Linked DNA regions of Homo sapiens: all the other regions are reported to be linked to region 2. The links are microRNA targets in miRTarBase. Many come from high-throughput screens and were not tested one by one. Region 2 holds a microRNA gene; each other region holds the end of a gene's coding sequence.
What was found. Region 2 holds the annotated microRNA hsa-miR-2392 (UAGGAUGGGGGUGAGAGGUG, at 2,652-2,671, shown strand). A microRNA usually pairs through its seed, bases 2 to 8, with sites in the 3' UTR of a target mRNA and lowers its output. Matches are read on the target gene's strand: a 7mer-m8 pairs with bases 2 to 8, a 7mer-A1 pairs with bases 2 to 7 and ends in A, and an 8mer does both.

Region 1: the mRNA of PDZD11 is a reported target of hsa-miR-2392. Seed matches in the 3' UTR shown: 7mer-m8 at 4,102-4,108.
Region 3: the mRNA of MLF2 is a reported target of hsa-miR-2392. Seed matches in the 3' UTR shown: 8mer at 2,342-2,349.
Region 4: miRTarBase lists C6orf132 as a target of hsa-miR-2392. Seed matches in the 3' UTR shown: 7mer-m8 at 1,312-1,318.
Region 5: miRTarBase lists TIMM29 as a target of hsa-miR-2392. The part of its 3' UTR that is shown has no 7-base or 8-base seed match.

The regions. Positions count from the first base shown.
Region 1 is chrX:70,282,602-70,289,163 of GRCh38, forward strand. It overlaps PDZD11 (PDZ domain containing 11), which reads right to left. Exons shown (of 7, transcript NM_016484.5): 3 at 5,829-5,912; 4 at 5,516-5,572; 5 at 5,131-5,229; 6 at 4,675-4,735; 7 at 3,994-4,515. The coding sequence ends at 4,481. RAB41 (RAB41, member RAS oncogene family) reads left to right here. Exons shown (of 8, transcript NM_001363807.1): 3 at 201-254; 4 at 667-772; 5 at 912-1,023; 6 at 1,349-1,442; 7 at 1,665-1,728; 8 at 1,987-2,401. The coding sequence ends at 2,042. Among named protein-coding and RNA genes, the nearest start is that of RAB41, 3.7 kb to the left of the region's middle.
Region 2 is chr14:100,811,900-100,818,461 of GRCh38, forward strand. MIR2392 (microRNA 2392) reads left to right here and starts at 2,592; the gene lies at 2,592-2,675. RefSeq lists an enhancer at 3,262-3,762.
Region 3 is chr12:6,745,945-6,748,944 of GRCh38, forward strand. MLF2 (myeloid leukemia factor 2) reads right to left here. Exons shown (of 9, transcript NM_001382226.1): 8 at 2,826-3,000; 9 at 2,052-2,603. The coding sequence ends at 2,851. Among named protein-coding and RNA genes, the nearest start is that of MLF2, 5.7 kb to the right of the region's middle.
Region 4 is chr6:42,101,125-42,104,124 of GRCh38, forward strand. It overlaps C6orf132 (chromosome 6 open reading frame 132), which reads right to left. Exons shown (of 5, transcript NM_001164446.3): 5 at 1-2,754. The coding sequence ends at 2,637. Among named protein-coding and RNA genes, the nearest start is that of C6orf132, 40 kb to the right of the region's middle.
Region 5 is chr19:10,929,533-10,935,707 of GRCh38, reverse strand. TIMM29 (translocase of inner mitochondrial membrane 29) reads right to left here. Exons shown (of 2, transcript NM_138358.4): 2 at 5,454-6,175. The coding sequence ends at 6,006. Among named protein-coding and RNA genes, the nearest start is that of TIMM29, 3.8 kb to the right of the region's middle.

The DNA of each region.
Region 1 (6,562 bases), not on the chromosome of region 2:
CACCGAGTCATATGGTACATTTTTGCCACTCTTCTTGGCGGACTCACCTGGAGATTCTCCTCCTCAAAGTTATGTATTGTAAGCATTGGGAAGTGGAGCCAGGACAACTTCTTGAAGGGTCATTCTCCACTTTGGGTTCTAAGACTGCCTCATATTGGGAATAGAGGGAATGCTGGAGTGTATCTGATTTTCTTTTGCAGGCAACTGTTGGAATTGACTTCTTGTCTAAGACCATGTACTTGGAGGACCAAATAGTGAGTGTTAACTCTCATACCACTAACCCTACACTTCAACCCCTTAGGCCTATTCATCACAGTTGGGTAGCACCATCAAAAAAAACTGAAGCCTCTTCAAATTACCAAGCCCTATGATGTTTCTTGTTCTGTCTGCCTTCATCTAATCTCCAACTGTAACATAAAGTCCAAGAGACCTTGAATCCTTAAATCTGCTGTGCTGTAGGGTCTTCCTGAATCAAAACAGTATATTGAAATTGGTTGGACCTGTCCTAGGACTATAGGCCATTTGGTCTGAGGCTATAGCAGCCACTTCTCAGGGATCCAGTCTACCTGACCTTTTGTATTCTGCCTTTATTAGGTTTGAGCTTTTTAAAAAGGCTAGTTTCTTGTCTACCTTTCCCCCATCTTCTTCCTAAACATTTTTATGCAGGTTCAGCTGCAGCTATGGGACACAGCTGGCCAGGAGCGCTTTCACAGCCTAATTCCTAGCTACATTCGTGATTCAACTATTGCAGTGGTTGTCTATGACATTACAAGTGGGTGTTATGCAATGTTTTATTTGAAAAGGGGATTATAAAGGGATTGATAGGGAGATTGACAAAATTAGCAGAGAGGAAGTGTTCTCTCCAAATCTCTCCTAAATGTTTCAACGCTCTGGAACATATTCTCTTGCAGACATCAATTCTTTTAAGGAGACAGATAAGTGGGTAGAACACGTGCGAGCAGAAAGAGGTGACGATGTTGTCATCATGTTGTTGGGTAACAAGATTGATTTGGATAACAAAAGGTAAAGTATAACTACAACTTCTTCTGGCATACCTAAAATTCAGTCTCTATGGGGAGGGTCAACTGTCCTCTATTTACTTGGGGAGGAGTTACCTTAGTCCCCTCTGCCCCCTACCAGCACTGCAGGATGGGAAGGACAGGGGGGCGTCCCATCAGGGCACAAGGATATGTTGGGGGTATAGGAGAGAGTCCCCACCCTGTAGTCAGAAGGGTCATGGGTTTAAGGCTTCTAGGGTTCCTGGCCCTAGGTAAGCATCATTACACCTCAGAAGAGTCTATCCATATCCAATAACTCTGGCCCTTTTCATCATTTCTGATTCGTCCAGACAAGTCACTGCAGAACAGGGTGAAGAAAAATCCAGAAACCTCAATGTGATGTTTATTGAGACCAGTGCCAAAACCGGTTACAACGTGAAAAAGGTAATACTTGTTTCTTTCTATGATACTTTAATTGTGCTCTGTCTGTAGCTACTACTACTGTTTACTCTTTTGGATAAGCTTGGCTTATCTTTTGTGGGATAGGGGTCAAGGTTCATCTCCCCATCATGTATCTCAAAGGCCCTGAATTATCCTAGCCTCTGAACCTGACCTTTTTTTTTTCCCCTTTTTTTTTTTTTGGTCCCCATTCACACACACACACAGCTGTTCCGGCGTGTGGCTTCTGCCCTTCTTTCCACAAGGACTTCACCTCCACCAAAAGAGGGGAGTATCCTTTTTCCTAGCTTTGCTGGGGTAGGGAGTATACAAGTAGAGAAGGTAAGTTTCCTTGCTGAGTTGATGCCTGAGTGGTACCTAAGGGGAAAATGGGACTAACTTTAGCCCAAAGTAGTTCCTTCGTTTGCCTTTAGGTGAGAGGGATTGTAAGATCAGAATTCCTCTTCTACATCTCCTAGAAGCTGACCTTGGGTGTTAAGATTTGACTCCAGTCACCTCACTGTATTAGCTTCCTTGACACACACTTCAGCGGTTGAAATCGAACTGGAATCCTTCGAGGAGTCAGGCAACAGAAGCTATTGTTGACAGCTTAGGCTTTCTCTGCCTCATTTGATGGATTTCTTACATTTGGGCTTGCCATACCAGTTCTCCTCCCCACCTCGTTTTATGATACATGGCCACTTACTCTCTTCCAATTCCTAGGCTTGGGGTAAAAACAGAACCCCTGAAAGTGCTATCATTTTTTCCTGACCGCATCTCACAGCTACTGGGTGGAAGCTTCTTGCAGCACCTGGGAATTCTACCTTACCTTCTCCGACAGCTAAAAGACATCTGTAGAGAATACAGTTCTACAGCAGCTGACATACTTCAAAGGCCAATACAATTCATTCTCCACTGTTTGTTGTTGTTTACCTACACCCTCAATAAATGGTTCTTTAACCTAAGGCTGTTATTGCTTGTGCTTTCTCCACACTATACCTATATTTCCACAATGCAATTATCTCATGTTGGTGCCCTAACATAGAACCAATCCAAGTATTTCAAACAAGAACCAATTTAAGGCAGGAGGGTTTTTGCCTCTTAGGCCCATGGCACCTGGCTGGGACTTTTTACCATGTTTTTCATACTTCTTAGATACAATGTTTTAAGACCTGTTAACCACAGGAAGAGTCTTGGACCTCAACATTCAGCCAAGTCACCCAACATGCCTTTATGGAAGTAACCAAGCTACTATTTTCTTTCTTTCGTGGCCAATGCGGGGCATGGGGTCAGCAAATAGGAGGATAGAACAGGATTTCCCAGGAAGCATAGGGACAGCTACATTAATTCTACCTCCAGCTCTGCTCTCAAGGGATGTTGCCACCTAACAATAGCAGTGAGGCTCTAGAAGAGGTATGTCAGTAGAGCTAGGGTGGGATATATAGGAAGAACCAGACCTTCCTCATACAGTATAGTACTACTATTTAGAACAATGTTTCCTACATTTGAAGACTTATTTACTTATTTCCTTTGCTTCTTTAAAAATCCAGATTTCCAGATTCCACCTCAGACTAACAGAATCATTGTCCAGTAGAAGGGCCTATAAATACATATTTAAGCTCCCCAGGATTCTTTCAAGGCAAATTTTGGGACTTCATCATAGGGGTACATCACCCCACACCACACTAGAAAACTCTTTTTTTTCTTTGAGACAGTCTCACTCTGTCACCCAGCCTGGAGTGCAGCGGCGCCATCTTGGCTTACTGCAACCTCCACCTCCAGGGTTCAAATGATCCTCCTGCCTCAGCCTCCCGAGTAGCTGGGACTACAGGTAGTGTCCCACCACACCTGTCTCATTTTTGTATTTTTAGTAGAGATGGGGTTGCACCTTTTTGGCCAGGCTGCTCTCGAACTCCTGGCCTCAAGCTATCCATCTGCCTTGGCCTCCCAAAGTGGTGAGATTACAGGCATGAGCCACCGCGCCCAGCCTCACACTAGAAAACTTTCAATTCCAAATGGGTATTTTAAACATGCCAGTGGCGATGGCATAGGCATGACTAGGAATCTTGTAATGGTGGATTGGTAACTAAAGATCTAGGAACATGGCAGAATGTTATTTGGGGCTGGGGTGAAGAAAAGGGAGAAGTCAGCAGTTAGCACTACTCAACTTACAAGTTGGAAACTGTGAACCAATTTCTTACTGCTGCCTCAGAAAAGAAATGCATCTAAGCCCCTTCCTTAGTTTATGTTCCAGATCAAAGAATGTGGGAAAGGAGAAGAGAGAATTATATTACTACTGTCCCCTGCAGAGAAATGCTCAAAGCTCCTAGGGGAACGGGCAGTTTCTTTCAGTGCCCCTCACTCTATGCCATTTCTTAGTTATACTGTGGTTAAAGTTCCTTGGCCTTGCTAATGTTCTGGTCAGACATCACAGGTAGTTGCGAGGAAGGTATAGTATTGCTCTGTTCCTTCCAGTGGCTCCTCTCTTTGGAAGAGCTTTTTCTTCCCTCGATAGCATTTTACATCCAATCGGTAACATTCAAAAGTCACACCAATATTTCTTCAGCATTGTGTTTTACTTTTTGGGAGAGAGGCTAGGAGGAGGAAGGGGTGAAAACAGCGTCTCACTGGAGTCTCAAAAGTGTATGAATCTTCTGGTAGTGCAAGGATGGGATAAGATGGCCAGGGAAGTCAGATGGAAAATCCCCAAGATTCTTTTTGCTACTGATTTCTATAATTAAAATATGACATATGTAAGGGACTAGTGCATGATATTCAATAAATGTCAGTTGTCTTTCCTAACTAGGTTCCTCACAGGCTAGGTTATGCCTAGATATCATCATCCTCCTTTCAGGGAATGAAGCTCACCTAGAAAACTAGGGAACTAAAAGTGCAATATGGTTTGGGTAATGCAGTTGGTTAGCTGTCTCCCCATCCTCCCAACTCACTATTCCAGGGAGGGGCTGAAAACAGAAGTGGCTCCCCTGAAGTCTAGTTAGCATGTCATGACAGAGTCCACATGAAGGGCTGTGGGCTGCAACTTTCTAGTGCACAGTCCTCTCTTTTTGGCGATGATAATCTGAAGGAAAGAAGAAGAAAAGGAGGAACAGAGCAGGTTATCTTCACGCTTGAGCTCCTGATTCCCTATCCCCAACTTGTAGGGCCTCTAGTCATCAGTATTTAAAGAGTTCTTACTTAGGGCCCTGTCAGGAAAGTGAAAAAAGAAAGTGGCACTTACTGTAGGGAAAGAAGCGCACACGCATGCTGATTTCACGAGCTGTCTTCAGGATCTCAACAGCCTGGAAGGAACACAGCAGCTTGTACAAATGAAGAGATATGACCCAAGACAGAATCATAATAGGGGGAAAGGGATTTGCCACTCCAACCTGTGTGTCACTAATAGCTGCTTCCCTCCTGTACTTTCCCAGGAGAGGTGCTTACTTTCTCTCTCTCTTTTTGTTTGTTTGTTTGTTTGTTTTGAGACAGGGTCTTGCTGCGTTGCCTGGGCTGGTCTTAAATTCCTGGGCTCAAGTGATCCTCCCGCCTCAGCCTCCTAAGTAGCTGGGATTACAGGCGTGTACCACAGTGCCCAGCAAAATGCTTTCTTATTAAGTTACAGATTAGGCTACTCCTGTCCAATCTGTCCTATTTGAGATGGCTTCTTGCAGCACCACAGCCCAAGTACTGTGCTCACCTTGCTGTGCTCAATATCTTGGAAATCCACATCATTCACAGCTAGAACTTGGTCCCCTTCCTGCAGTCCTGCTCTATGTGCATCAGAGTCAGGAATCACCTGTTGGTAAAGAGAGAATACATGTGATTGGGATGCGATAATTTCAGAAGACTGTCAGTGAAATTCGGTGCTATTCAAATGTATGGTGCTATTGTTTTTCTGTGACAATGTATGCAGACAGATGGCCTGCCAAATGAAAAGTTTTAAGTGGGAAAGGGGGTGTCTCCATTATACCCCTTCTATGAATCCAGAGTCATCCTCTCAGCCCTTGGGACATTAGGGTTCTGCAATCTGTTAATTTAACAAAGGGAAGTAACGATCCATATTGCCTACTGGGCATAAATACCTTGGAGATGAAGATGCCTAGCTGGGAGGCCTTTCCTCCTCGGATGTTAAATCCCAACTGTAAGACAAGAGCACAGAATGGGGGCTCAATGGAGACCACAAACACAAGAACAACTAGTAGCATCATCGTACAATAGCTCAGCTTGTGTGTCCCTGAGAGGAAAGTCAGAAGTTGCAGAAGTGTTATCTCAGCTTTTCTGTCCACAAGAAGGAAAGTTTCCTCACATCTGCACCTGCTTTCCAATCCATCCCCCCAACACTGCCAATTTGTGGTATGGATGAATCTAGCCTGAAATAAGGTTTCATAAGTTCACCTGAGCTCCAGGAGGCTTCTTCAGTGTGATGGTTCGGGGCAGAAACTGGGTCAACTCATTGTTGTAGTCCGGGTGGTGTACCCTCTGCAAGACACAGCAACCCCAGAAATTTTACCAGTCTTACTTCACACCTACCTTCATCTGAAACACTAATGAATTACCCTGAAGTCAGGAAAAGGAAAGGTCATAGACTTAATTTAAGTAGAACAGATAACACAGACTAAATGAGTAGATGGATAGCACTGGGGCAGCCCAGTAGCTCCCCATTTCTTCACCTTTTTTTTTTTTTTTTGAGATGGAGTTTTGCTCTTGTTGCCCAGGCTGGAGTGCAATGGCTCAATCTCAGCTCACCGCAACCTCTGCCTCCCAGGTTCAAGCAATTCTCCCGCCTCAGCCTCCCTAGTAGCTGGGATTACAGGCATGTGCCACCACGCCCGGCTAATTTTGTATTTTTAGTAGAGACGCGGTTTCTCCATGTTGGTCAGGCTGGTCTCGAACTCCCAACCTCAGGTGATCCGCCTGTTTCGGCCTCCCAAAGTGCTGGGATTACAGGCATGAGCCACCGCGCTGAACCTCTTAACAGTATGGAAATGAAGGCTCCAAATTTCCAGAATTAACCGGTGTGAACAGACCCTAGCAGGAGGCTTCCATAAAGAAGTTCCCAATGGGTCCTGTTGCTCAGAATCCAGCTTCTGGGTCCTCTGGCTACAAGTGCTAAGATTCACTCTCCGTTT
Region 2 (6,562 bases):
CAAAGGGGAGAGCAGCAAGGCTGTCAGGAGACAGAAGAGGCTGGGAAGACCCGAGCTCACTGGGCAGAGGACCCCTTGGTTCTGTGGCCCCTGAAGCAACTGTCTCAGTGGGATGAGGTTTTTGGGACAGTGGTGTCTCTCTCGGGGAGAAGTCATAGCTTGAAGAATTCTCCTCCGCCCTTGACTTGCCCTACCTTCCCTGAGCTCTTTGTCATCTTGTTTGTGTCAAAAAGGGTGGATCTTGTCCTCTGTTTGAAGCAAGAAAAGGAAGTATCTGAGTGGTTAGCCCTGAGGGAGCCTTTTCCTTTTGACCTTTGACATTTGATCTGTTGCCAGTGATGGCAGGAGAGAGATGACGCTACAGGACCCGGCATGGCAGGGCCCCGGTGCTGGGCCTACTTGTCCTCTTAATGTCTCCTTCTCAAGCTGGTCACTTCCCTTGGGGCAGTGGAAGGAGGAGAATGACCTGGATGGCCAGATTGGCACTATCTCAGTGCTCCCATACAGAGCTGGGGCAAGTCTCTGGGCCTCTGTAAACCTCTCTTGAGGCATCTGTAAAAGTGGAGGATGGAAGCTCTGTTGGGGAGGATTTGGTAGTAAAAATAAATTTTAAGAGGAGTCCCGAACTAGTAGCACAGGGAACCCTAAAGAGCCCTGCTCTCCACTGGATGGAGAGCTGGCTCTTCCCAGGTCCCAGGAGGCAACACCGACTTTGCTGAGTCCCAAGCCTATCATGGGCTTTCCCACCCAGCCTGGGGCAAGGAGTGGAATACGCTTAGCCCAGGCAATGGATGGAAGCAAACTCCCCCAAGGAAGGTGGTATTAGTCTCCCTGGCCATTCCCAGTTGGAGTTGATTTGTTCCTTTAAGAAGGGGAAGGATTCTCGAGCACTGGAGTTTTCAGGTCCCCTCCCAGTCTTGAAAGTTTGCAAATGACTCTGTTTTGCGGGAGGGCTGAGGCTGAAGTCCTGTCCATCTCTATCCTCTGACTCTGAGGACTGAAGACTGGGCTTTAGGATCTCTGGGTCTTGAGGAGGCTTGGCACCTGCAGAATCCACTCCAAGACTGCCTGAAGCCTCTCGAGCACTTCTTGCCAGCCACATGTACTCTTTGAGCAAATGAAAAGGGGACTTGGGGATGTAAACTTTCAAGACTGGGAGGGGACCTGAAAACTCCAGTGCTCGAGAATCCTTCCCCTTCTTAAAGGAACAAATCAACTCCAACTGGGAATGGCCAGGGAGACTAATACCACCTTCCTTGGGGGAGTTTGCTTCCATCCACTGCCTGGGCTAAGCGTATTCCACTTCTTGCCCCAGGCTGGGTGGGAAAGCCCATGATAGGCTTGGGACTCAGCAAAGTCGGTGTTGCCTCCTGGGACCTGGGAAGAGTCAGCTCTCCATCCAGTGGAGAGCAGGGCTCTTTAGGGTTCCCCGTGCTACTAGTTCGGGACTCCTCTTAAAATTTATTTTTACCACCTATCAGTGATTTCAAGCCAGCGGTGGGCCACGGCCGGTGCACCGGGGCCTGCCAGTCTGCTCTCCTGTGGCTCAGCAGGATTCACTATTGCTGCCCCGTGGCCCCGAGGTCCCATGGTTGGTAGTGCACAGGCACCCTGTGGCCCTCACTGTGGGGTTGATGTTGATGATCTTTGTGCTGTGATTTGCGGTGTCCCACCATGATTCCTGTGGCAGTGGGTCTGGAATGGCATGCTCCCCCTGGGTGTTTGATGAAGAGTTTGAATGGAAGCTGCCACAAGACTTTCTCCCGAGTTAGGGAAACTGAGAGGCTGCAAGACCCAGCTCCTCTGCGGAGAGTCACCTCGAACTGTGATTTCTGCATTGAGCCGTGTACACCAGAGAGCGGCTAGGATACGGTGATGCCCCTAACCTGGGACAAGTGTGTGTGTGTGTTTTGGGGGGGGCTTATGAGCCTTCTCACAACTGAAGGGAGAATGCTAACTTTCCAATCGGGAGGTTGTGCGCAGATGACACCCCAGCTTCCTTTGGGGTTCTCTGTTATCCGTGTGGCCAAGAACTCAGTTCAACATCCTGAACTTTCCAGTGTCCCTGCCCTCCCAGCAGGCAAAGGGGATGGAAGGATTGTGAATCCAGTTCAGCAGGGTGATGCCTCCTGGCGCAGATGCCAGGCCTGCTTCTTGCTGGGTAGATCTGTGCCTCAGTTTCCTCATCTGTAAAGCGGGCATGGTCAAGGACCTACCTCTTGGGTGAAGATTAAATGAGCTATTAATAAGGATAAAAAGCTCTTCAAACCCTGCCTGGCACATACTAAGTGCATGCTAAATGCTGTACTCAGTTTGCAGACTGATAACGCTGTGCCGGATGTCCTTGTCGCTCTGTGTCTCTTTGCGCTGTGCAAGTATTTCTGCAGGGACAATTTCTAGGAGTGAATGTCTGGGCTGAGACTCGTGTGCATTGAAATGCTGGGTACATATTGCCAGAATGCCAACCGAGAAGTCACACCTAGTTAGACTGCAGACATAGTGTAAAGTTGATGAGAGAAGCTTCGTGGGATGGGGTGGCCTTCTAATGGTATCTTAAGGAACTAACAGTAGTCCCGCAGGAATATTTTGATATGGTCCCTCCCAATCCAGCCATTCCTCAGACCAGGTGGCTCCCGAGCCACCCCAGGCTGTAGGATGGGGGTGAGAGGTGCTAGATAGTCACAAAACTGAACTAGCCTGAGCGGGGTGAGGGCCTAAAGCAAACACAGCCTCAGCACACGGTCATGCTGGGGGGATTTGAATCTTGGTGTAGAGTGGCAGAGATGGGGAGTTTCCACTTTATTTAAAGGGAACGTGAGTTCAAGTGTGAAAATCTTGACCTAAGGGAACACAGCTCGGCTTCTGTGCTCTGTTCAGCATAAACTTTTACTTGGGGGCTTGCTGGCCAGGCTGATCTCAGATCTCTGGCCCAGGGATCCCTGACCCAGCCTGCCAGGAATGTGGGCTGTGGGGATGAGGCCATCTCGACTTGGCACAAAGGGCTCCTAGAAGTCATTCAAACCCCGTTTCTGCCGTGCATTGCCTTCCCCTGGATTTGGGACCTAGGTACGGCATAGACTTCACTATGCAAATGAGTGATGATTTCCGCCGAGTGCCCAACCCCCTTCCCCAGAGGTCTAAGCTGTAAAGCAGAGGGTGGCCCAGGAGGTGCCCCAGAAGGGTTGTAGGCTAAGCTGCTTCCTTCCTACCTTCTGGTCAAACGCATACCCTCCCATGGTTCTTGTGCCTTCAGGCTCCCAATTCACAGAATACACAAGGACTTGGGATGAAGCCGGAGTGACCGTGGGCTGCCCTGCGTCTCCCAGGTTTCTGGAGCTGTGTGGCTAGGGGCTCCTTGGAGCCAAAATAGTTTCTCATTGGGGTGTCTGACCCATAGGCCTAGGACCCCCATTTCTCCTGGCCCAATCACTCACCAGGGAGGACATGGCACACGCAGAGTCAGCATGGCTGCCAGGTTCCAGGCCCTTGTTACATCTTTGCCTTGTTCATTTGGGGTTGCTTATTTCAAGCCTTTCCCTCCAGGAAGTACTACCTTATGTTCTAAACAAGCCCCATGATGCTACATGTATAATTTGAGATGCTATGATTGGGATGTGGGAGATGGAGCTAGCGCCTGCCTTCTTACCCCTTCCAGGTCCACATTTCTGTGGCCCTGGGATGGGCAGGAGGGAGCCTTCCCATTCCAGGTGGACGTGCTCTTCCCCTTTGGTCAGGATGGCAGGCCTGCGGAAACCCCTGCCAGAGAAGCGGTTACCGAAACGGGAGTTGGAGAGGTCTCACCAGGGAGCGCTGGAGACCTTAGCCCGTTCACCTTCTCCCCTCATCTTCCTCCCTCTACCTCCTGCCCCTACACTCACCCTAGCCTCCTGCCCAGCCTGGTGGGAGAGGTCAGCTTATATAAGGTCCCCTGGCCACTTCCTGACCTCCTCAGGGGGGATCTTCAGCCTAGGTCCACTCAGATTTCTCCAAATTAGGGCCCCGGTATGGGCTGTGGAAACCAGCCCTAAGTCTGGGCCTGAGTCATGCCTGCTGTTCAGGGCTTACGGGAGGGCCCTTTGTGTAACTCCAAAGCAGGGGACCGGGATTGCACACTCAAGCCTTTCAGGAACAGCTGAGGCTGGGCAACCAGACAGTTTTGCTTGGATCTCTGGGGTGGCCACGTGGCCATACATTCAATGCTCTGAGATGCCTGTGCCCTAAGCTAGGCAGGAAGTGACTTACAGCTGAAAACAGGATTTGAATGACTTCTGCTCCGGGGAGGCCCCTCAGTATAAACAGTGAGAATTTCTGGGAAATGTACATAAGGCCAGACTCTCGGGAGGGGATATGGGCCCAGATTCCTGATGCTCCCACCGAAGTGAGAGGTGCCAGCTCTTCCTGGGCATCCCAAACCTCCACGGGCTCTCTCTTGTGGTTAAATGACAGCGTCTTACTTCTCATTTCATCTTCCCAGGGAGAGCGTTCACTCACTCTCAGGGCCTGGGCTGAGCAAGCTAGCCATCTAACATCTAAGCAGAGGCATGCAGAGTGCAGCCTGAACACAGTAGGTGTGCAGCTCAGCTCCCTTGTTGGCTCTGAGCTCAGTGAGGCAGGGAGCTTGACCCATCACTTGTCATTTTATCCCTAGCCATTGGCATGTAAAATAATGCCAGCCCTAGGCACCCAGGAAGTACTTCCTGAATGGAATGAATGAATGGATAAGTAAGACAATCTGGAATTGTCTTTTAAAGTTGCCAGAACTCAGGCTAAAGGTGCAAATGCTCTGCTGGTGTATTTTGAAGCAGCCTCTTCTGAGTGTGCCTGGCCTGGCCTCCCTGCCTATGTTCCCTGTGCTCCCTACTCCAGAGTTCCACCTCCCCAGCCCTGGACCTTGACCCTCAACATCCCTATTTAGTTGGGTAACGTGTGAGGCTTTTAGAAAATAGTCTGTCGCCAGGAGTGGTGGCTCATGCCTGTAACCTCAGCACTTTGGGAGGTTGAGGTAGGAGGATCTCTTGAATCTGAGAGTTCCAGACCAGCCTGGGCAACATAGAGAGACTCTGTCTCTTAAAAAACAAACGAACAAACAAAAAAACTTGATGTAGTGGGAAGCGCCTGTAGTCCCAGCTACTTGGGGTGCCGAGGCAGGAAGATTGCTTGAGCCCAGGAGTTTGAGGCTGCAATGAACCATGATTGCACCACTGTACTCCAGCCTGGGCAACAAAGTGAGATCTCGTCCCAAAAAAAGATAAATAAAAAGAAAATAGTCTGTTTTAGTCTGTATTCAGAGCAAGCCTGTGGCATGAATATCAACTTTCCTGTTTTTGCAGGGGGGAAACCGAGGCCTGGCAGGGCGAAGTGGGCAGGACCCTTCTCAAAGGGCCAGGGTGCTAGTGGCCACTGTCCTTCCCCCACCACCTCCACGCCCCCATCCCCCCACAGTTCACGACTGCAAAGGCAGCTTTAGGTTGGGAGCTGGTGGAGCAAAAAGGCCGTTCAAAGGCAGCCTTCGTTTGCTTTTCCTTATCATCACATGTGCAAGGGCAGCTCCGTTTACCTAGAGGCAGGCGTCTTTGAGCTCATCCTTTCCGCAAACACCTAAAGGGTATGTTGAACATTTGAGCCCCTGTCTCAGAGGGCGCAGCGTTTGCACAACATAAGCCCTGGCGGCTCGGTAGACGGGTATGGGGGGTAGACTCAGGTTTCTGGATGAAGCACTGAGAGCCAAGGTGACCTGCGGTGTTCCGGGATGACCTTTGGTGACCTTCGGTCCTGTCCAGTGACCTGGGGTGGTGAAGTTACCCCAAATGGGAGGAAATGAACTCTGGGTGGGCGAAGGCTGCAGGACGTGTTGGCATGATGGCTGTAGAAAGTGCACACCAGGGCTGGTGTGGAGGGCGCCTCGGCTGCTCTGAGAATCTTCCACTACCCCGGCCTGGGATTCCCAGGAAAGGCTGGTGGTGGAGGCCAGAGAGGCTCACAGCCCTTGTCAGCCAGGCCTGGAGCCGTTCCTGCAAACAGGAGCCCGATGTAAAGGTTCTGAGCTCTGCATTCTTGTGGAGTGGGTGGCACTGTGAGGCCTGCTCTCCTTGGGGCAGCGGGGGCTCTCTGCAGGAGGAGGGAGGATGCCATTTGGGTTACTGAGCACCTACTGTCTCATTTAACCTTCTCAACACCCGGGGGTGGGGGGGTGGGGGTAGGTACTATTATCCCTATTTTACAGGTGGAGAAATTGAGGAGAGGTGAAAGGATCCCAGCCAAAGTCAAGTGGTGGTATCAGAATTCAAGCCAGGCTGTCTGAGTTGGGAGCCTGTGTTCTCACCCACCTTGCCTCATGGCCTCCTCACTGCCAAATGTCCCATGCCAGGCTGCAGAGTCCCCACCCCAACCAGGAACAAGAGAGCCACAGGAAAGACGGCAGGGGCAGGCCAAGTGTCATGGGAATATTTTTATCTGGAATATTTGTTTTCCCACTGAGCTTGTAAATGACATCTCAGATCCCACACTCTGAGACAGGAAGTCCTAAGTAGGAAGAGAGCACCCTACCCAGCCCTTGTTGGCC
Region 3 (3,000 bases), not on the chromosome of region 2:
TCTGGGGTGGAGAAAATAACCTGAGGCGTTTGCCCATGTCCTCTGGATACTCGCTGGGCCGGTGGCTGAGGGGTGGCTGTTGTGTGAGGCTGGGCCCAGATGGAGAGCTGACCGGAAGTAGAGTATCTGTGTCCCTCGGGAAAGTTCCTTTCCTCTTCCTCTCCCGTGGCCCTTACCCCAGTGGCAGACAGGTCAGGACGTGCTAGGGGGCTGGTTCTTGAGCATCTCACTCTACTGATGCTAACACCTCACTTCCCACAACATATCCCTGCTGAGAACTAGTCACAGGCCCCAGGAGTAAGTGCTGGGCTGAAGGGTGGTCCAAACCCTACAGCAGGGAGCAGGAGTACAAATCAGTTCACATGTCTAAAGGCTGGGACCTGAACAGGGGAGTCCCTGAAACACTGGACTGACTCACCTGGACTGAGGTCAGGGCAGCCTTACTCTGCCGCAGTCACACTCAAGACTACACATGCGCGTGTGGGCACTGGAACTAAAATCCGGGTTGAGAGGCTGGGCCTGATATTTTGTGGCTAGAAGGGCCCCACATAACTCAGGTCCAGGGAGGTGAGTGACCTGCCCAAGACCACAAGGCTGTCAGTGGCCGAGCTAAGGACTGAGGCTCCTTCAACTCCAGGTTACCTTGCTGCCTTCTCAGGAGAGTGAAGAAAACGACTCCCTTCTCAGAGGAAACAGTCGTGTGCTTATCTGGACAGGGCAAGATTACACTTAAAGATGAGGGCTGTGAAGCCAGGCGTAGCAGCTCACGTCTTAATCCCAGCACTTTGGGAGGCCAAGGCAGGTGGATCACTTGAGTCCAGGAGTTCGAGACCAGCCTGGCCAACATGGTGAAACCCTGCCTCTACTAAAAATACAAAAATTAGCCGGGCGTGGTGGTGTGCGCCTGTAGTCCCAGCTACTCAGGAGGCTGAGGCAGGAGAATCTCTTGAACTGGGGAGGCGGAGGTTGCAGTGAGCTGAGATCACGCCACTGCTTGGGTGACACAGCAATACTCCATCTCAAAAAAAAAAAAGATAAAAAGATGAGGGCCATGGCTGCTGAGTTCCATCATCCACAGTTCAGAGCCCAGGTGGTGGTGAATAATCCACACTAGATTGACTTCTGGGATTCCTGGATTCTTTCACCACTGGGTTCCCTTGACCCGGTCATGCATCTTCACCAGCCTAGCCTACTTACTGAGATTTAGTAACTGCACTGGACTAGGACACCAGTGCCTGGTTGTTGAGCTCAACTTCATCTCTCTGCTTGTTGAGTCACTGGACAAATCCTCCTTATCCTCTTGAATCTACTCGTCCACGAGACACAGGGGAAGATCCTCCCTTCCCTGAGAGGACCCAGAGCCTTAGGTGTCTTTGTGTCCCTACCAACTGAAAAGAACTCAAGACTTTCATAAAGAGGAAACCATTATCAGACTCTCCTACACATTTGTCATCATTAAGTAAGTTCCCAAGAGGAACAGAGTGACCCATTTGGCTGGGCAAAGCAAGAGCAAACGTCTTGAGAAATTTGAGCTCCTCATGCCCTTCCAGTCCTGCTCAGGTTCCAGGTTAGTTTTCTTCTCTAGGCTCCTTCCCTGGGCTCAAATTCTCAACTACTGTGGGTGGAGGGTTTGTGGAACGCTGCAGACCAGAGTTCCTCCCCTCTGAAGGCCTGTGTAGGGTTATCTGAAGTGTTTCCACCCAGAGTGCAGGAAAGAAACTCTGTCCAAGGGGCAAGGGGCAGCAAGTTCCGCAGGCACCCATGAGAGATGCCCAACACATCCCTGAAGAGCAAAGTTACAGCAGAATGTGAGGGAAGAGCCAGCGAGAGAGGTGCTCATGTTCTCACGCCCCAGCCTAGCCCAGCCAAGTGCTCACGGCCTGCACCTGGCAGTGCTGATGGTCTGTCCGTACCAAGGAGATGTGGGCTTGAACTCTGAGGTACGAAGACTACAGGTGGAGACGAGGAAAAGTGAGAAGGTAACTTCAGAGGAGACAGCAGGGTTGAATTGAACAGGAAAAGATCAAAAGTACAGCCAGAATCCCACTTGGTCTTTTTTCCATTCTCCTTTATTCCATAAACACCTAGTTACAAGTTGCACAAATCAAAAAATAAAGGCAGAGAAGGGTGTAGGGAAGATTCTTTTGATGTGTGTGGGCAGGAGGAGGGAGAGAGTTAGGAACCAGTCTGCTCCTTCCACAGCCCTAGATAGGGCTACGGCCCCTCAGTGGGGGCTCTGAGGAAGAGGTGGGCAAAGATCCAGGGTAGCTGAGGGATGGAGGGGGCCCCTAAACCCAGAGCTCACCCCAAAATGCATTGACCCTTCAATGCATGGCAGGAGTAGGATGGGAAAGGTGAGGGGGTTTGAAGATGGAGTGGCAGAATGAAAAATCAAGTCAGTAGATGCAGAGGCGAAGTCATCAATGGTAAACCAGGAGATTAAAGAAGGAAAAGGTAGGGAAAGGGTGCCGTGAAAGGTTCTCCCTGAGACCCCCAGGGAGAGGTGGGGGCCGGCTTGCCTGTTAATTTAATATTAAATTGGGGATGGGAATCGAGAGGAAAAAGTTATTCAGGGGATGATTTCTCAGCCTCTCAGCCTGTACCTGGAGGGGGAAAGAGAGAGGAGCACAAGTCAAAAGGAAGAAAAAACTTACGTTAAGAGCCAGGAGTTGGGGTTTAATCCCCTATGTCAGTGAGAACATTGTTCTCTTTCCATGTCAACTTGTACTACCAAAGGCAGCTCCTGCGGGAGCCTGAACTGAGCCTGCCTTGCAGCCGAGGACCGTCCGCAGGTGCACCCCACCCTCCTTACTCCTGATACTTACAAGAGAGGCTGAGGGCCCGGGGCCCTCACCAGTCATAGCGGCGGGACTGTCGGGAAGGGGAGTCCTCAGGTCCCTGGATGGCCAGGCGGGGAGGCCCCTCCGCCCTTCGTCCCCCAGCCCCTGAGGACTCAAGCCGCCGAAACTCCAGGGGACGCTGCTGCCGGAATCGGGAGGT
Region 4 (3,000 bases), not on the chromosome of region 2:
TAAAAAAAAAAGCTTTATGGAAAACTGTGACAGGCCATATACAAATGTGAGGTATTCATCACCCAAAGATGCCATTTGCTGAGCAACTACTAAGCGCTAGGCACGTGCTGGACGCTTTGCCTAAATCAGTATGTCACCACCACAAGAGGCCTTCCCTGACTACCCTGTTAAAGTAAATCCACTCCTCTCCCCACTCGCTAGTTATTCTCTCACGTTCCCTGTTTTTTCCTTCTTACTACTCCTTGTAATTTATGATGTTTTTGTGTGCTTTTTCAATCCTCTTCCACCAGACAGACTATTAGCTTGCCATGAACAGGAGTCATGTGGGTGAGCTGATGGCAGTCTATCCATACTAAGCACAGTGGCTTGTATCCAGTAGTTACCCAAATCCTTGTTAGACAAACACAGCCACGGAGCTGGAGGCCAGTCCAAACTGGCCTGTTTATCTTCCAAGTCAAGTGAGACTCAGCCTTCCCTGCCCACCCCAGAGCAATATACAGCTGAGAGTCTACGCCCCACCCCTCGAGCCTTAACATAGCAGATAAATTAATGATCTCTTTTATAAAACATTGTACAGGGAAAATACATACATAGAGAGCTAGTGCTGGGGCTGGGGTGGGATTTGCTTCTTGAACACAGATAACCAGACCCTACCCCATCAGGGTGGCTGGCCTTGGTAATCTGGGCATCCACCCACCCCTGCACTTTCTTCCCTAAAGTGGCTCACCTGCTGTCCTGACAACCAGCCTCGGCTGGTTACCACAAATAATAAAGGTCCAACATCTTCCCCCCAAAGGGAACTACTTTCTGGCTGGCCCCCACCAGCCTGCTCCTCTGAAATGGGCACTCTCCAGTCCTTCCTTCTTACTGAGGCAGCCCACCTTGACCTGGTCCCAGGAATTTGGCCCACCAGTACCTGAAGATAGGGAAGCAAGACCAAGGAATATTGTTTCCTGATATGTTTGGTGATCACAGCATCTAAACCAGGACTTTTTTGAAAAGTGGAAGGGGGTCTAATTCACTGGAAAACAAGCATAAACCTGGACTGCCCAGGCAAAGGACACGTGGTCACCCTACTGATAGGTCTCCCCTGCTCCTTTTTTTTTTTTTTTTTTTTTTTTTGAGACGAGTCTCGCTCTGTCGCCAGGCTGGAGTGCAATTGTGCAATCTCGGCTCACTGCAACCTCCACCTCCTGGGTTCGAGCGATTCTCCTGCCTCAGCGCCCCGAGTAGCTGGGACTACAGGCGCCCACCACCATGCCCAGGTCATTTTTTTATTTTTAGTAGAGACAGGGTTTCGCCATGTAGGCCAGGATGGTCTTAATCTCTTGACCTCATGATCCACCCGCCTCAGCCTCCCAAAGTGCTAGAATTACAGGTGTGAGCCACCATGCCCAGCCAGGTCTCCCCTGCTCTTAACTGGCCCAATCCTAGCACTCTTTTTTTTTTTTTTTCCGTATTTTTAGTAGAGATGGGGTTTCACCATTTGGGCAGGCTGGTCTCGAACTTCTGACCTCAAGTGATCCACCGGCCTCGGCCTCCCAAAGTGCTGGGATTACAGGTGTGAGCCACCGCGCCCAGCCAACCAATCCTACCACTCTTGACTTTCCCAAACACATTCCCCAACAGCAGCAAGCTTCTTCAGACCTCCATTCCCATCTCTGCTGCCTCCACTCTCCAAGGCTTTCTAGCATCTTAAGGCATCAAGAGTATTGGTGACTTGTAGTATCAGTGTTAGGAAAAATGCCTTCTCCAAATCCCATATGAGACCTGGCCATGTAAGGCCCCTAGTGTCAAGCCTAAGACTCATGGCTCCTTGGGCCCAGTCCCCAAAATCAGGGCTGCACAGGTCTGAATAGCAAAGCCAGGCTTAACCTTGTTTCCCATCCTAAACTTGCCAAGTGTCCTCTCTCTAGGCCTCCCTGTAGCTAAGGGCTAGGGCCAAGGAAAAATGAACCATCAATCTCCCACCTCTGCCCTTGGCCAATGCAAAGGGCTTCCATTCCACATGTGGGAGCTTCACTCCCCACCCCACACATGGTCCTTCTCCACATGTTATACATACACATTCCTGGTCCCACCTCAATGCGGCTAGGAACCCCAGGTGTCCACTCTTGCTTGGGATGGCAGGTGATGGAGGCTAAAGATCTCCCTTCGGTGCCCTGCACACCCACCAGACAGAGCTGGGCCTCAGCCCTTTGCAAGGGCCTGACAGGCAATCACAGCTATCTCGATGGGTTCCAGTTCAGTCAGTGCCCCACCCCTTGCTTTCAGAACCTGCTCAGTAGGCCGTGCTTGTAAAACTGTTTTAAATAACTCTTGCTAAAGCAGATAGTACCAGAGAGCAGAAACTCAGCGCCCAGGTCCTTAATGGTTCCTTCTCTCTACCCTCCTTCCCCTCCCACCCCCCACGTGTAAACAGTCCACAGTCACACCAGCGCTTTGGGAAACAGAAGCCCACTCTCGGTCTTCCTGGGCCACTGCTTCTCATCGTTGGTCTTTGGGGATCAAAGACTCCTCTGTGTCTGAGTCAGGTCGCCCAACACCTGCTGTGTACCTCCCACCCCCCACAAGAAACAAGTGCCCAGATCCTTAAAGACACAGTTTGTTGGAGTAGAGCTAAGAGAACCCCTGGCTCAGGAGGTGGCTTTCCGATGGGCCCCTGAGCAGACATAGGAGATGGGATGGCGGGTCCCAGGCCTCACGGTGAACGTGTTGATGGGGCTTCCATAGCGGGTGGTGGTGTAGGGAGACCTGGGGGAGAGCAAGAGATGTGAGGTGAATATCTGCAGCTGGTTAGCCAACACGTCTCTCATCTCCCCGAGGGACCGAGAGGAAAAGATGCTGCTCATACTTCTGTATTTGCCCCGACAAGCCCTGGGCTTATCGACCCCAGGGAGGGACCGCAGACATCACAAACAGGGCTCCCATTCTGGTCTGGGCCCTGCTGGCCGGAGAACATGCCTAACAGCCTTTCACTCAGAACTCTTTCACTCCTGG
Region 5 (6,175 bases), not on the chromosome of region 2:
TACATGGTGGCCCTGCACCACTAGGCAGGGTGCATCAGCCCCTCCACAACCACTTAGGAAGGTCACAGCATGGATTCGGAGCCATAATCTTCCCTGCACAGCCGCACCACAGACTGTGAATGCCTACTCTGTACCAAGTGCTTTAGTGGGCTTTTAAATTTTTCTGACAAGCCCACACTTAGAGATAAGGAGCCCAAAGCATGGAGAAGTGACTTCACTCACAAAGCAAGGAAGTGTAAAAGCTGAGTTCCAAATCCTGGCTTTAAAGCCCACTTATGCCTCCTGTCCTCTGCCTTACACCAGAGCATGGGCTGAAGTACAGTGAGACCTCTGGGAAAAGCTGACCCTCTGCCCAAAGCCAAGACACAAAGCCTTCAGGCTGCCCAAGCTCCACAATTCCTACCAACAGCGCCGACCACTGCCCTCAGCTTCAAGCTCCCAGCAGCTTCAGATGATCTTCCTGGAACACACCCTGGCGAGAAGTCAAAAGTGGCATTTAATAACTGACTCAAGCAATGATGGTGTGGACCCTTTCCAATACTTCTGATCAATGAGAAACAAGTGTCTTTGATGACACCTTAAAACCCTTCCCTGAAGTTGGCTAATGTCTAACAGAGGGCAGATTTGGGGACAGAGATTTTTGGCAGGTAATGGTGTAGAGATAGCATTTAGTTAGTATCATCTCGACGTCTTTTGTTTCCTTTCATTTTTGGGGGTTAGAGGGGAGATAGTGTCTCACTCTGTGGCCCAGGATGGAGTGCAGCGGCATGACCAAGCTCATTGCAGCCTCAAACTCCTGGGCTCAAGGGATCCTCTCACCTCAGCCTCACAAGTAGCTGGGACCACAGGCACACACCGTCTCACTTGGCTATTTTTTTTTTAATTATTATTTATTTATTTATTGGGACGGAGTTTTGCTCTTGTTGCCCAGGCTGGAGTGCAATGGCATGATCTCGGCTCACTCCCGAGTAGCTGGGATTACAGGTGCTTGCCACCATGCCCGGTTAATTTTTTGTATTTTTAATAGACACGGGGTTTTACCATGTTGCCCATGCTGGTCTTGAACTCCTAACTTCAGGTGACCCACTCGTCTTGGCCTCCCAAAGTGCTGGGATTACAGATGTGAGCCACCACACCTGGCCTATTTTTATTTTTAGTAGAGACGAGGTGTTGCTATGTTATCCAGGCTGTGTCTTTTGGTTTTATTGCATTTCTTTTTTATATATGTATTTCTTTTTTTCTTTTTTCTTTTTTTTTTTTTTTGAGAGGGAGTTTTGCTGTTGTTGCCCAGGCTGGAGTGCAATGGCACGATCTCAGCTCATCACAACCTCCCGGGTTCAAGCGATTCTCCTGCCTCAGCCTCCTCAGTGGCTGGAATTACAGGCATGTGCCACCACGCCTGGCTAATTTCGTACTTTTAGTAGAGATGGGGTTTCTCCATGTTGGTCAGGCTGGTCTCGAACTCCCAACCTCAGATGATCTGCCCACCTCGGCCTCCCAAAGTGTTGGGATTATAGGCGTGAGCCACTGCACCCAGCCTATATATGTCTGGTTTTTTTTTTTGTTTTTTTTTTTTCTGAGACAAGTCTCACTCTGTCGCCCAAGCTGGAGTGCAGTGGCTCGATCTCCGCTCACTGCAAGCTCCGCCTCCCGGGTTCACGCCATTCTCCTGCCTCAGCCTCCCGAGTAGCTGGGACTACAGGCACCTGCCACCACGCCCGGCTAATTTTTTAAATATTTTTAGTAGAGACGGGGTTTCACTGTGTTAGCCAGGATGGTCTCGATCTTCTGACCTTGTGATCTGCCCGCCTCGGCCTCCCAAAGTGCTGGGATTACAGGCGTGAGCCACCACGCCCGGCTTTATATATGTATTTCTATATCCAATTTTTATTTATGGCAACTGATAGCAGTATTTAACTATTTCTGACAAGAATTATTAGGATCAAAGTCCACAAGTTTGAGGATTAAGTCACAGAGCTGGGAGTTACAGTTCGAATCTTGGTCCTGCCACAGCCTTGGAAAAATAAATTTTCTGAACCTCAGCTTTTCCTCTGTAAAAGTGAGATGCTGACTTAAACCAACACCTGTTCAACCCACTGATTATGAATGCAAGGGTCAAATGCCAAAATTTGAAAGTAGCAAACACACAAAAACAAGTATCACAAACAAAGATAGTTGTTTTACCACCTGGTTTTATTAACTTGCCACAGGCCCCTGAGGTAGCATCACTCCCTTAATACTTCAGTTTTATGTTATTTATTTTTTCTCTTTTTTTTTTTTTGTGTGACGGAGTCTCACTCTGTTGCCCAGACTGGAACGCAGTGGCGTGATCTCGGCTCACTGCAACCTCCACCTCCCGGGTTCAAGTGATTCTCCTGCCTCAGTCTCCCAAGTAGCTGGGATTACAGGCGTGCGCCACCACGCCCAGCTAATTTTTGTTAGACGGGGTTTCACCATGTTGGCCAGGATGGTCTTGAGCTCTTGACCTTGTGATCCACCCACCTCAGCCTCCCAAAGTGCTGGGATCACATGCGTGAGCCACCGCATCCAGCCTTATTAATTTTTTGAGACGGGGCTTGCTCTGTCACCTAGGCTGGAGTGCAGTGATGCAGTCTTGGCTCACTGCAGCCTCAACCTCCCAAGCTCAAGCAATTCTTCCACCTCAGCCTCCTGAATAGTTGGTAGTACAGGTGTGTACCATACCCGATTAATTTTTGTGTATTTTGTAATTTTGTGTATTTTGTAGAGACAGGATTTCACCATGTCGCCTAGGCTGGTCTCGAACTCCTGGACTCAAGCGATCCTCCCACCTTGGCCTCCCAAAGTGTTGTAGTTACAGGTGTGAGCCACTGCGCCGGCCATAAATTACACTTAAAAAAAATAAAAAGTATTGAGGCCGGGTGTGGTGGCTCACGCCTATTATCCCAGCACTTTGGGAGGCCAAGGCAGGTGGATCACAAAGAGTTCAAGACCAGCCTGGCCAAGATAGTGAAATCCCGTCTCTACTAAAAATACAACAATTAGCCGGACGCAGTGCCAGATGCCTGTAATCCCAGCTACTTGGGAGGCTGAGGCAGGAGAATCGCTTGAACCCAGGTGGCAGAGGCTGCAGTGAGCCGAGATCATGCCACTGTACTCCAGCCTAGGCAATAGAGTGAAACTCTGTCTCAAAAAAAAAAAAAAAAAAAAAAAAATATTGGCCGGGCGCAGTGGCTCACACCTATAATCCCAGCACTTTGGGAGGCCGAGGTGGGAGGATCACTTGAGGTCAGGAGTTTGAGACCAGCTTGGCCAACATGGTGAAACCCCATCTCTACTAAAAATACAAAAACTAGCTGGGCATCATGGCATATGCCTGTAATCCCAGCTACCCAGGAGGCTGAGGCAAGAGAATCACTTGAACCTGGGAGGCAGAGGTTGCAGTGAGCCGAAATCGTGCCACTGCACTCCAGCCTGGGTGTCAGAGTGAGACTCTGTCTCAACAACAACAACAACAACAAAAATACAATTTACCATAACCTAGCTAAGTACCAGCTGTGTACACTAACTTACTTCTTTTCATAGAATTCTGTTTCAGGGTTACTGAAGTACAACATAACCAGAATCTATGATTCCATATAGATTTCCAGACCAGAAAATGCTTTATCCTTCCAAGCCACCTCCAGTAACTTACAATGCTCATCTGGTAAACAGGTTGTTTTACAAAAAACTTCCCTGTAACATCCCAATAGTCATGACACTGTCAATTGCCTGGTTTTGTATTTTTAATAGGGAACGAGGGCCGGGCACGGTGGCTCACGTCTGCAATCCCAGCACTTTGGGAGGCTGAGGCAGGCGGATCACCTGAGGTCAGGAGTTTGAGGCCAGCCTGACCAACATGATGAAATCTCATCTCTACTAAAAAATACAAAAATTAGCCGGGCGTGGTGGCATGCGCCTGTAATCCCAGCTACTTGGGAGGCTGAGACAGGAGAAACGCTTGAACCCAGGAGGCGGTGGTTGGGGCGAGTGCCACTGCACTCCAGCCTGGGCAACAAGAGCGAAACTCTGTCTCAAAAAAAAACTTAAAAAAATCAAAACAAAAATGTTACTTATTTATTTATTTTTTTGAGCTGGAGTCTCACTATGTTGCCCAGGCTGGAGTGCAGTGGTGCAATCTCTGCTTGCTGCAAGCTCCACCTCCCGGGTTCACGCTATTCTCCTGCCTCAGCCTCCTGAGTAGCTGGGACTACAGATGCCTGCCACCACGCCCAGCTATTTTTTTTTTTTTTTTTTTTTTGAGACGGAGTCTTGTTCTGTCGCCCAGGCTGGAGTGCAGTGGCGCAATCTCGGCTCACTGCAAGCTCCGCCTCCCAGGTTCATGCCATTCTCCTGCCTCAGCCTCCTGAGTAGCTGGGACTATAGGTGCCCGCCACCACGCCCCGGTAATTTTTTGTATTTTTAGTAGAGACGGGGTTTCACCATGTTAGCCAGGATGGTCTCGATCTCCTGACCTCGTGATCCACCTGACTGGGCCTCCCAAAGTGCTGGGATTACAGGCGTGAGCCACCGCGCCCGGCCAATTTTTTTGAATTTTTAGTAGAGATGGGGTTTCACCGTGTTAGCTAGGATGGTCTCCATCTCCTGACGTCGTGATCCACCTGCCTCGGCCTCCCAAAGTGCTGGGATTACAGGCTTGAGCCACCGGGCCCATCCACTTATTTTACTTTTTGAGACAGTCTCACTCTGTTGTCCAAGATGGAGTGCAGTGGCACGATCGTGGCTCACTGCAGCGTTGAACTCCCAGGCTCAGGTGATCCTCCCATCTCAGCCTTCCTGAATAGCTGGGACTACAGACATGGTCCAACATGTCTGGCTAATTTTTCTATGTATACATATTTTCAATTCTCATTCAACACCTTTGGTAAATTTTTGTACTTTTTGTAGAGACGGGGTTTTGCCATATTGCCCAGGCTGGTGTTGAACTCCTAAGCTCAAATGATTTGCCTGCTTTACCCTTCCAAATATTTTAGTTTTTGAGAAAGCTCTCACTATTTTACCTAAACTGGTCTTGAACTCCTGATCTCAAGCAATCCTCCTACCTCAGCCTTCCAAAGAGCTGGGAATGGCAAAAATGTTACTTATCAAAATGAAAGGCCAGGTGTGGTGGTTCACTCCTATAATCCCAGCACTTTGGAAATGCGAGGCAGGTGGATCACCTGAGGTCAGGAGTTCAAGACCAGCCTGGCCAATATGGTGAAACCCCATCTCTATTAAAAATACAACAATTTGCCAGGCATGTTGGCACAGGCCTGTAATCCCAGCTACTGAGGAGGCTGAGGCAGGAGAATCACTTGAACCTGGGAGGCAGAGGTTGCAGTGAGCCGAGATTGCACCACTGCACTCCAGCAGGCAAAACAGAGCAAGACCCTGTCTCAAAAAAAAAAAAAAAAAAAACGAGAGAGAATAGGTCATAGAATAAAAACATTTCAGCTCAAATTTTATTTAGTTAATTACTATTATTATTCTTTTTTGTAGCATCGGAGTCTTGCTATGTCACTCTAGCTGGCCTCAAACTCCTGGCCTCAAGCGATTCTCTTGCCTCAGTTTGCAAACTGCTGGGATTACAGACATCACCATGCCAGGCCACAACCCAAACTTGAAAAAGAAAATCTAAGTGGCCTTAGAAGAGTTTGCAAGTCAGCTGACCAATGTGGTACCTCCTTAAGGAGGGCCTCTGAGGCCCGATGAAAAAGGCTTATATAAAAGGCTCATGACCAGCTCTGCCAGTGATGAACATGTGTCAAGTCGTTCTGCTGTCCCCAACTCCCGGACCCAGGTGGCTCTGAATTAGCTTCAGCTAATAAAGAACAAAGACGGGGGGCAGAAAGGCTCCCCAAACTTGTGCAAATCCAGTGAGAAAACACTTTGCACATCATCTGTCTCAGCTGTTCTGCAGGTGAGGCACACTCAGAACTGCACCACCCCAGGCAAGCAGTTTGCCAGGACTCGGGGGCCTCAGGGTTTCATCTCGGGGCCTCCGCCTGCACCAGCGAGTGGGCCTGGCTCAGGGCGAGCCTGTCCTTCTTCTCCTTCTGCAAGACCTGCTCCTCCCACAGCGCCTGGTCCACCTGATCGTCGGTGAGCACGACAGGCTTGTACTTCTCATCGAAGAGCCGCTCGTTGGTCTCGGAAT